2 linked regions of the Homo sapiens genome follow. The protein of the gene in region 1 purifies or fractionates together with the protein of each later gene. This does not show direct contact. Each region holds a gene or a part of one and is shown on either strand. Other genes may lie near its edges. The genes, in order: AGK and RAB18.

The links.
Region 2: the proteins of AGK (region 1) and RAB18 purify together in Homo sapiens (affinity purification with mass spectrometry; 2 studies listed by BioGRID and IntAct, with this or other methods). This does not show direct contact.

The regions. Positions count from the first base shown.
Region 1 is NC_000007.14:141,652,180-141,655,834, reverse strand, and holds the end of AGK (acylglycerol kinase, mitochondrial isoform 1 precursor), read right to left. Parts: intron 3,049-3,655; coding exon 2,911-3,048; 3' UTR 591-2,910; downstream 1-590. UniProt on the Homo sapiens protein: Lipid kinase that can phosphorylate both monoacylglycerol and diacylglycerol to form lysophosphatidic acid (LPA) and phosphatidic acid (PA), respectively. Does not phosphorylate sphingosine. Phosphorylates ceramide.
Region 2 is NC_000010.11:27,502,503-27,506,422, reverse strand, and holds the start of RAB18 (ras-related protein Rab-18), read right to left. Parts: upstream 2,120-3,920; 5' UTR 2,054-2,119; coding exon 1,986-2,053; intron 1,979-1,985; exon of another isoform or gene 1,699-1,978; intron 1,445-1,698; exon of another isoform or gene 1,331-1,444; intron 1-1,330. UniProt on the Homo sapiens protein: The small GTPases Rab are key regulators of intracellular membrane trafficking, from the formation of transport vesicles to their fusion with membranes.

The sequences.
Region 1 (3,655 bases):
TTTTTTTTTTTTTTTTTTTTTTTTGAGACGGAGTCTTGCTCTGTCACCCAGGCTGGAGTGCAGAGTGGTGCGATCCCGGCTCACTGCAACCTCTGCCTCCCGGGTTCAAGCGATTCTCCTGCCTCAGCCTCCAGAGTAGCTGGGACTACAGGCACATGCCACCATGCCCAGCTAATTTTTGTATTTTTAGTAGAGATGGGATTTCACCACGTTGGCCAGGCTGGTCTCGAGCTCCTGACCTCAGGTGATCCACCTTCCTTGGCCTCCCAAAGTGCTGGGATTAATCTTTGCATTTGAGTGAAATTAATCTGTCAAAAAGTTTGTACTAAACAATCACCTGGGAAGGGTGGCCGACTTCCCAATGCAGATTCCTGGGCCCCATCCCCAAATTGGGTTATTAGGATCTCCTCCAGATAGCTCAGCATTCCAGCTTTGGCTGACAAGCCTCACTCAGCTGACTCTCTTTTAGTTGCACTATTAAACGTCTTCCATGCAGGCTTTATAGGGAAGGACAAGGCAAAGAACAAAGCAGTCAACAATAAGGAAACCAAGCCCTCACAGGAAAGAAAGCCTGAATCAAGAAAACAAAGTTTGAAACAAGGCATATTTATATTTAAAAATGAATAAGATTCTAAAGTGGCTTCCATATCCTTCCCTAATTATATGTACCATTATGATTAGAACCACAAAATGAGCACACATAAACACACACTGGTAGCCTATCAGAAAAGAAAGCCAGATTCTGCACTGGTCCTTGATATTGTTACAGAACCACGATATGCTAAATGCTCTCAGCTCAGGTGAAAACTTTTGTTTTCATATACTACAGCATCCTTCCTCCCTACCTGTGGGTGGTATGGGATGAGTGATCTTTATGCTGATGTTTGGAACCGTCTGTTATGTTTTTGCCAAAAGCAGAAATTTTACCACCCTGAAGAATACAGTATGAAATAAGAAAGCCTTCCTTTTTGTGATCTTCATTCATGGACTTTTCATAGCTGTTCTGTAATCTACTAAAGCATTGGTCTCTCTCCATGGGATGTGTGGGCATGGTGTATGTATCTTAAAAGGGATCTGCCTGAGAGAGAGCCTGTAGCTAAGGCCTGCCAGCTCTGCTTCCTCCCCTTCCCCCTCGCAATCCTCCCTCATTGATCTATCTTCCTGTGGTGCACTGCCCCCTAGAGTGTAAGAACCTCAGGGCCACTGAACAAAGGAAAATGTCAGCGATAGTAAAAGTAAATGGTGCTAATGACTGGCTGGCAAAGCCATGGTAAATCAGGTGGATTTCAGTTCTCTGCTTTCAACAGACTAAAGGAGAATCTAATCAAGTTGTTTGTTAGTTGATAGATCATCATTAATAATTCTTGATGATAGAGCACTGTGATCTTTGTCAAAATGCCAAAGGAATCCAAAGAACTGTAAAAACATTGTTAACGTAATTCTATTCCATCGAATTTATGTGCTTACATCTATACAGAAACAAGGAATACAGCTGAGGTTGAACCCCATCTCAGCTGTAAATCACATTCATGTATTCTTGGATAAATGAACTAATTAGGATAAAGAACATTCTAATAAAAAAACTTTTAATCATCCAAGAATTAATACCGTTTTCATTATATACCAATAATTAATTACGATAATATTGGTTCTGGACTGAGATAACAAACAAACACTTAAAGCAAGAGCTAAAAAAAAAATTTCCATTTATATTTTTTGTTGACAAGAAGTAATGGGGTGAATGATTAAAAGATGTCGGGCATAATAGATTACATTATGATAGGATTCTTGGCTGAAAAGTGGTATGGAAATACAGAAGGAGAAAAGCCAATTTGAAATGTTTAACTACTAAAGAACTAGCTCATTTATTTTTATAAATGAATGAAGGGTGTCAAATTGTTGTGATATTTAAATTGTACTGGATATGTTTAAAATAGTGATGTAACAGTTTTTATTTTAAAATACCAATATTTACACGACACCAGCAAATACATACTTTGTCAACTATTTAACTTCCCATGAAAAATTTTAGATACCAACTTAGATAAAATTTTAGATATCAACTTAGATGGGTGAGGGTATACATGATTTTTCAAAATACTTTTGGGGGCACATGAGCAGAATACTTTGTGGACTACTGCTTTAAAACACGATTTCTCCAAGTACAGTTGAGGGACAACTTACAGAATCACCTGGGAAGGGCAGATGACTTTTTAAAAATGCATATTCCTGGGCCCCATCCCCAAATTTGGGTTATTAGGTTTGGGGTAGACCCCAAATAAGTTTTCAACATGTACCCCAGGTGGCTCTCATGCAAACCATTTAGGAAGCACTACTTAAAAAAATAAATAAAAACTAGCATTTTCCGGTATTGTAGCCGTGGCTGAAGAGGGAAACAACCTCACATATGTTTCTGGACTGAGGTTAGAACTGAAATAAAAGCTAAACAGGAGCCGGAGCTCACAAAATAGCAGCACCTGTGGAGGAGCCTAGACATAGGAAAAGGTCACCAGGGCAGGAATGCACTTTCCTGGAATTCCTAGCACGGTCAAAGAAGAGAAATGGAAGGGCCTAGGCAGGCTAAGCCCACCGTGGGCTCTCCACTGTGGTTGCACTTTGGAAGAAAACAGAAGAAAGTCCTTTTCCGTCTTGAACCAGCCTGAGGAAAGTCCGTGTTTAGGAGGGCCAACCGTCACACCAAAATAAAACATGCGCTAATGGAAGCCGATTGCAAAGCAGGTGACAGAGCACACTTTGGGAAGCACTGCTGGAGTGGGGGCAGAGGGGTACTTGCCATGAAAATGCCCTGGGGACCCTCTGACGACACTGTTGGGATGGCTGAGGCACCTGTTCCCTTTTGGTCCCACCGGTGGCCTAAAGTGTGGTCTCAGAGTGCTTGTCTTCTGCTGCTCACTGGGTGGGGCTTGTGAGCATCTGTTCTCTCTTCCTAGGATCACAGAAGAACTGCAGCTTCCTGGGGAGCAGTTTCACCTCCACAGGCATCGCTTCATACTCCTCACTGTCAATGCTAAAAGAGCCCCCTGCTCCCTGGGGAGAAGAGAATATTCAGAACAGCTCAAACACATCAGTGGCCTACTGGAGTTGGAGGTCTCACAGCAGCACCAGAAGAAGTTCATTATGGAAAACAACATCCTCTCTTGAGGAGCTATCCTAATGTTCTTTTACAAAAAAAAATTCAGTGCCTACTACGATGGGCACAGTGCTGGTTCTGGAAACATCCTAATTCTACCATCCATGAAAAAGGATTTATTTTCTTTTTTTGGCCCCTATCTCCTCCCAGAGTATTTTGGGATTTGAACAACATGGTTATAATTTTCAAATATGTATTAAAAGGCAAGGGTCCTGCCATGTCTTAAGGAACTCATATACATAGTCTTTCTATATTATGCTAATCCTTCTCAAATAAAAATAAAGACAGCTAATTCTCTTATGACATGCTATTGTATCTGCTGGATCATTTTCATTATTCTCTAAGACTTGTTTAGCTTGATATACCCAAGGTGTATCAACATTAATATCATTACAGTCTATGAAACCCTTCCATAACTCATGCATTTAATTCAATATTTATATCGAAACTGTGACGCCAGTCACTATGGGGATACCTTCTGTTTACCTATAGTCTTGTCTGAAT
Region 2 (3,920 bases), on another chromosome or scaffold:
TTGAGCCCAGGAGATTGAGACTGCAGTGAGCTATGATCATGCCACTGCACTCCAGTCTGGGTGACAGAATAAGACCCTGTCTCAAAAAAACAGCGGGTAGAGCAGAGGAATTTTGTTTATATACTCCAGTTAACCTTCCAGAAAATTTTAACATACCCTAACTTGTCATCCATGCAATACATTTAGAAAAAGTGCTAACCAACCATGTATTGGGTTGAACTACATGAAATGACAACCAACCATTCTTGACTTCAAAAACACTAATTTCATATGCCTGAACTTAAATGAGAACGATATCTCAAGGAAAAAAGGAGAAAAGAAAAAGAAAGATCACAAGGCTGTGAAATTCCTATTAAGACAACGTTTAACTTTTTAACACTCAAATATGTATGTGCAATAATAGATGATCATGTAAATAATTTTACTCATGCCTTTTACACACACACAGACAAATCATGCTGGTTTGCTAACTCATAGTATTTCATTATTCTATTCCTTGGTATGTGCAAATCCTTCATTCCAGTAGACACAGAGGACATTACATGAGGAACACTATGAAAATGTGTTGTCAAACTGGTGGCTCACGCCTGTAATCCTAGCACTTTGGGAGGCCGAGGTGGGCGGGTCACGAGGTCAAAAGATGGAGACCATCCTGGCCAACATGGTGAAACCCCATCTCTACTAACAGTACAAAAGTTAGCTGGGCATGATAGTGCGCGCCTGTAGTCCCAGCTACTCGGGAGGCTGAAGCAGGAGAATCGCTTGAACCCGGGAGGCGGAGGTTGCAGTGACCCGAGATCGCGCCACTGCACTCCAGCCTGGCAACAGAGCGAGACTCCGTCTCAAAAAATAAATAAATAAATAAGTAAATAATATCAGAATATATTACATAAGCTTTCAAATTCTGAAGAAGCTTTTAAAAAGTAAGACTTTATGAAGTGACTTTTACAAGTTATTTGAGGAGAGCTTTCATTCTAGTTTGTAGAATTAAGGCTATTTCAATTTATGAAATACAAAAAATTATTTGAAAGATACGTGTATCAGAAGGTATAGCTAAAATATGAAACTGATTACAGCCCCTGGAGTGCAAATGTGGTTTAAGGATCAGGACGGCCTTGAACATAACCTACTCATAATCAGATGGCAAGAATGACATCAGCTGGAGAACTCTCTTCCAAGACCTGGATGAAATCACAGCCCTCTAGCAACATCCACCTAGATCCATGTCTTACCTTATACTCAACTCCACTGTCAATATTATTTTCCCCAAGGAAAAAGTAAAAAATGAAAGCACAACACTAATCTTCTGTCTCCACAGGATGTGGCAAAATGAGAAATAACAATTACATTTTATTTTCAAAGGTGGCCCACGGCTGAAGCACTCGGACCTTACACTAAAGCGAAATTTTCCAGCAGTCACAAGATCCAGTTCTTTCACAGCCGACTAATAAAAAAGTAAAAGAATCGACATTAAGCTGCGCCCAAACAGGCCAGGAATGGGACCTAAGGCGTCACGAAACTTCCCGAGGACATTATGTATTTAGAGAAGGCCCCACAGAAACCCTCAAGTGGGAAAGCTATGTCTCCCGGGTCTCGGGGTGGCAGGCAGCCTGAACCCCGAGAGGTTCGAGGCAAGGCGCCCCCGGCCGGATTCGGGCCCAAACCAGCCCGCCACGCCCTGAGCTCCGCGCAGCAAACCTGCCGGCCGAGCGGCGGCCCTCGGAATGGTGTTTTCTCGGCGCTACAGGAGGGAGAGCGACCCAGAGAACTTGGGCCTGGCAAAGGCCGGGAACCAGGCAGGCGCGGGTGGGGAGAGGAAAGCAAACGTCGCGGGAGAGCGCGGCCCAGAGGCCGAGGAGGGCGCGAGCGGAGCCGGCCCGAGCCCGCCGCTGCAGTTTACAGTTCCCGTCGCGGCCCAGGAGACAGCAGCCACCGGGGCAGAAAGAGCCCAGCCACCCTCGTCACGACCCGCACCTCCGCCTCACCTGGACTTGCCCACCCCACTCTCGCCGATGATGAGGATCTTCAGGGTGGTTAGCACGTCCTCGTCCATCCTGACCCCGTTCCGCTCCGAGCCCAGCTGGCCGCCCGGGTGCGCCTCTCAGCCCTTCAGCAGAGTGAGCTGCTGCGCATGCGCGCCGCTCCACGTCTGCCACCTTCCTTTCACACCGGGTGTTCAGGCTGCCGAAGCCCTGGACTCCCCAGTTCCGCCTTGAGGTAGCTCCACGGCTGCGCGACCCAGAATCCCCGGCGTTTTTCCGGACTGCGTGTTCCTCCCCTGCGCAAGCGCAGGTGGGGAGCGCTGTGTGTGACTTTGTTGGCTTCTTCTTGAGGTCTAGCTCCGCCCCAGCCTCAACCTAACCCTCCTTTTGAGTCAGTGGGAGGACTCAGTCAGGAGAATATCAAGCTGTTTTATTTCGGCAGCTGCTCATAACAGCTGCACTGCGGTGGGAAAAGCACTGTGCTTGAAGCAGATTATCTTAAATTTAGGTCCAGCTCTACCTTATAACTGCCTTGTCATACTACCCAGCTTTCTTAGCCTTTCTCCATCTCTGAGAGACACAGTAACACTTCTTAGAACATCTGCTTCTTATTGTTATGAAGGTTAAGTGAGTTAATTTGTGAAGACATGTTGTTAACCAAAGTGCTCTATAAAAGGTGTGATCAGGTATTATCTTGCTGGCTTCCCCTCTGTTATAGTGGAGAGCACCCTCTGCACCCTAATTCATCTTGAAAGGGAGGCGTAGACTTCAGGTAGGTCAGGTGCATTACTTCTGGCGGTGCAACTTCAAGTCAACTCTCCTTCCTCATAAGAACTGCTACACCCATACTGCAGGAAGTGTATGTCTACACCTTGCCTCCTGCATTAAGTTGTAAATCTTAGTGAAGGTACCAAACCTCATTCATAATACTTAGCACAGTGCCTGGTACATGGCAGGCACTCAATAAACCTCAGTTCTCTTGTCTTATTTCCTTATACCTGCAGCTAATGTCATATACAATGGATATTTGATTAAAGACTACATATAAATAAAATTTCAAATGTTAAGAAATTAATTTGTTAAATAGCTGGAAAAGCCCTTTCAAAAGATATCCCAATGGCTTCTCCTCCTTCAGGTCTTCGCTCAAATGTTGCATTCTTAAAGAGGCCTTCCCTGTCCATTCTACTGAAATATGCAAATCCCTCCAGCATTCTCTAGACCTCTTTACATTGTTTTTCTGCATAGGATTTAACCACTCTCTGATACACTATATATTTTACTACTTTATTAGAAGTCTCATGAAGGCAAGGATATTTTGTTTTGTCTACTGGTATGTCTTCAGTATCTAGAGTACTTCATGGCACATAATATGTGCTAAATAAATGTATGCTGAATGAATTAATTGAATGAATGTTGTAGAGTCCATTCCTAACCTTAGAGAATAATGTCAATGAAACAACCTCCACTTCTCATCAGATAGCCCTTGAAACTTCAGTCAAGTCTATCTAGCTTACTTTTCATTATGACAAAAAGATCTTATTTATGAGGTTCACAGTATTGTCAAGCTCTCCTGCCCTGGGGTCCCGAGATCCCTAGAAATCCCTGAAAACCTTTCAGGGGGGTTGCAAGATCAAACTATTTTCATAGTTAATATGTTATTTTTTCATGCACATTCTCTGATGATAATATAATGGAGTTTTCCAGAGGCTATATATTAATAACATGTAATAGCAAAACAGATTGAAGGCAGAACAAGATATGTGAACTTACTGGTTTTCTATGATATTAAGCCAGATATTAAAGGGATTTCCTAAAATGTAAAACATTGCCACTGTTCTCAATTTTGTTCTGTTTTAAAGTAGTTATTTTCATAAACATTTCTATTAACTGGTAATAGGTTTATTATTGTTTTTAAGTAAATTAACATGTTTGAAATTT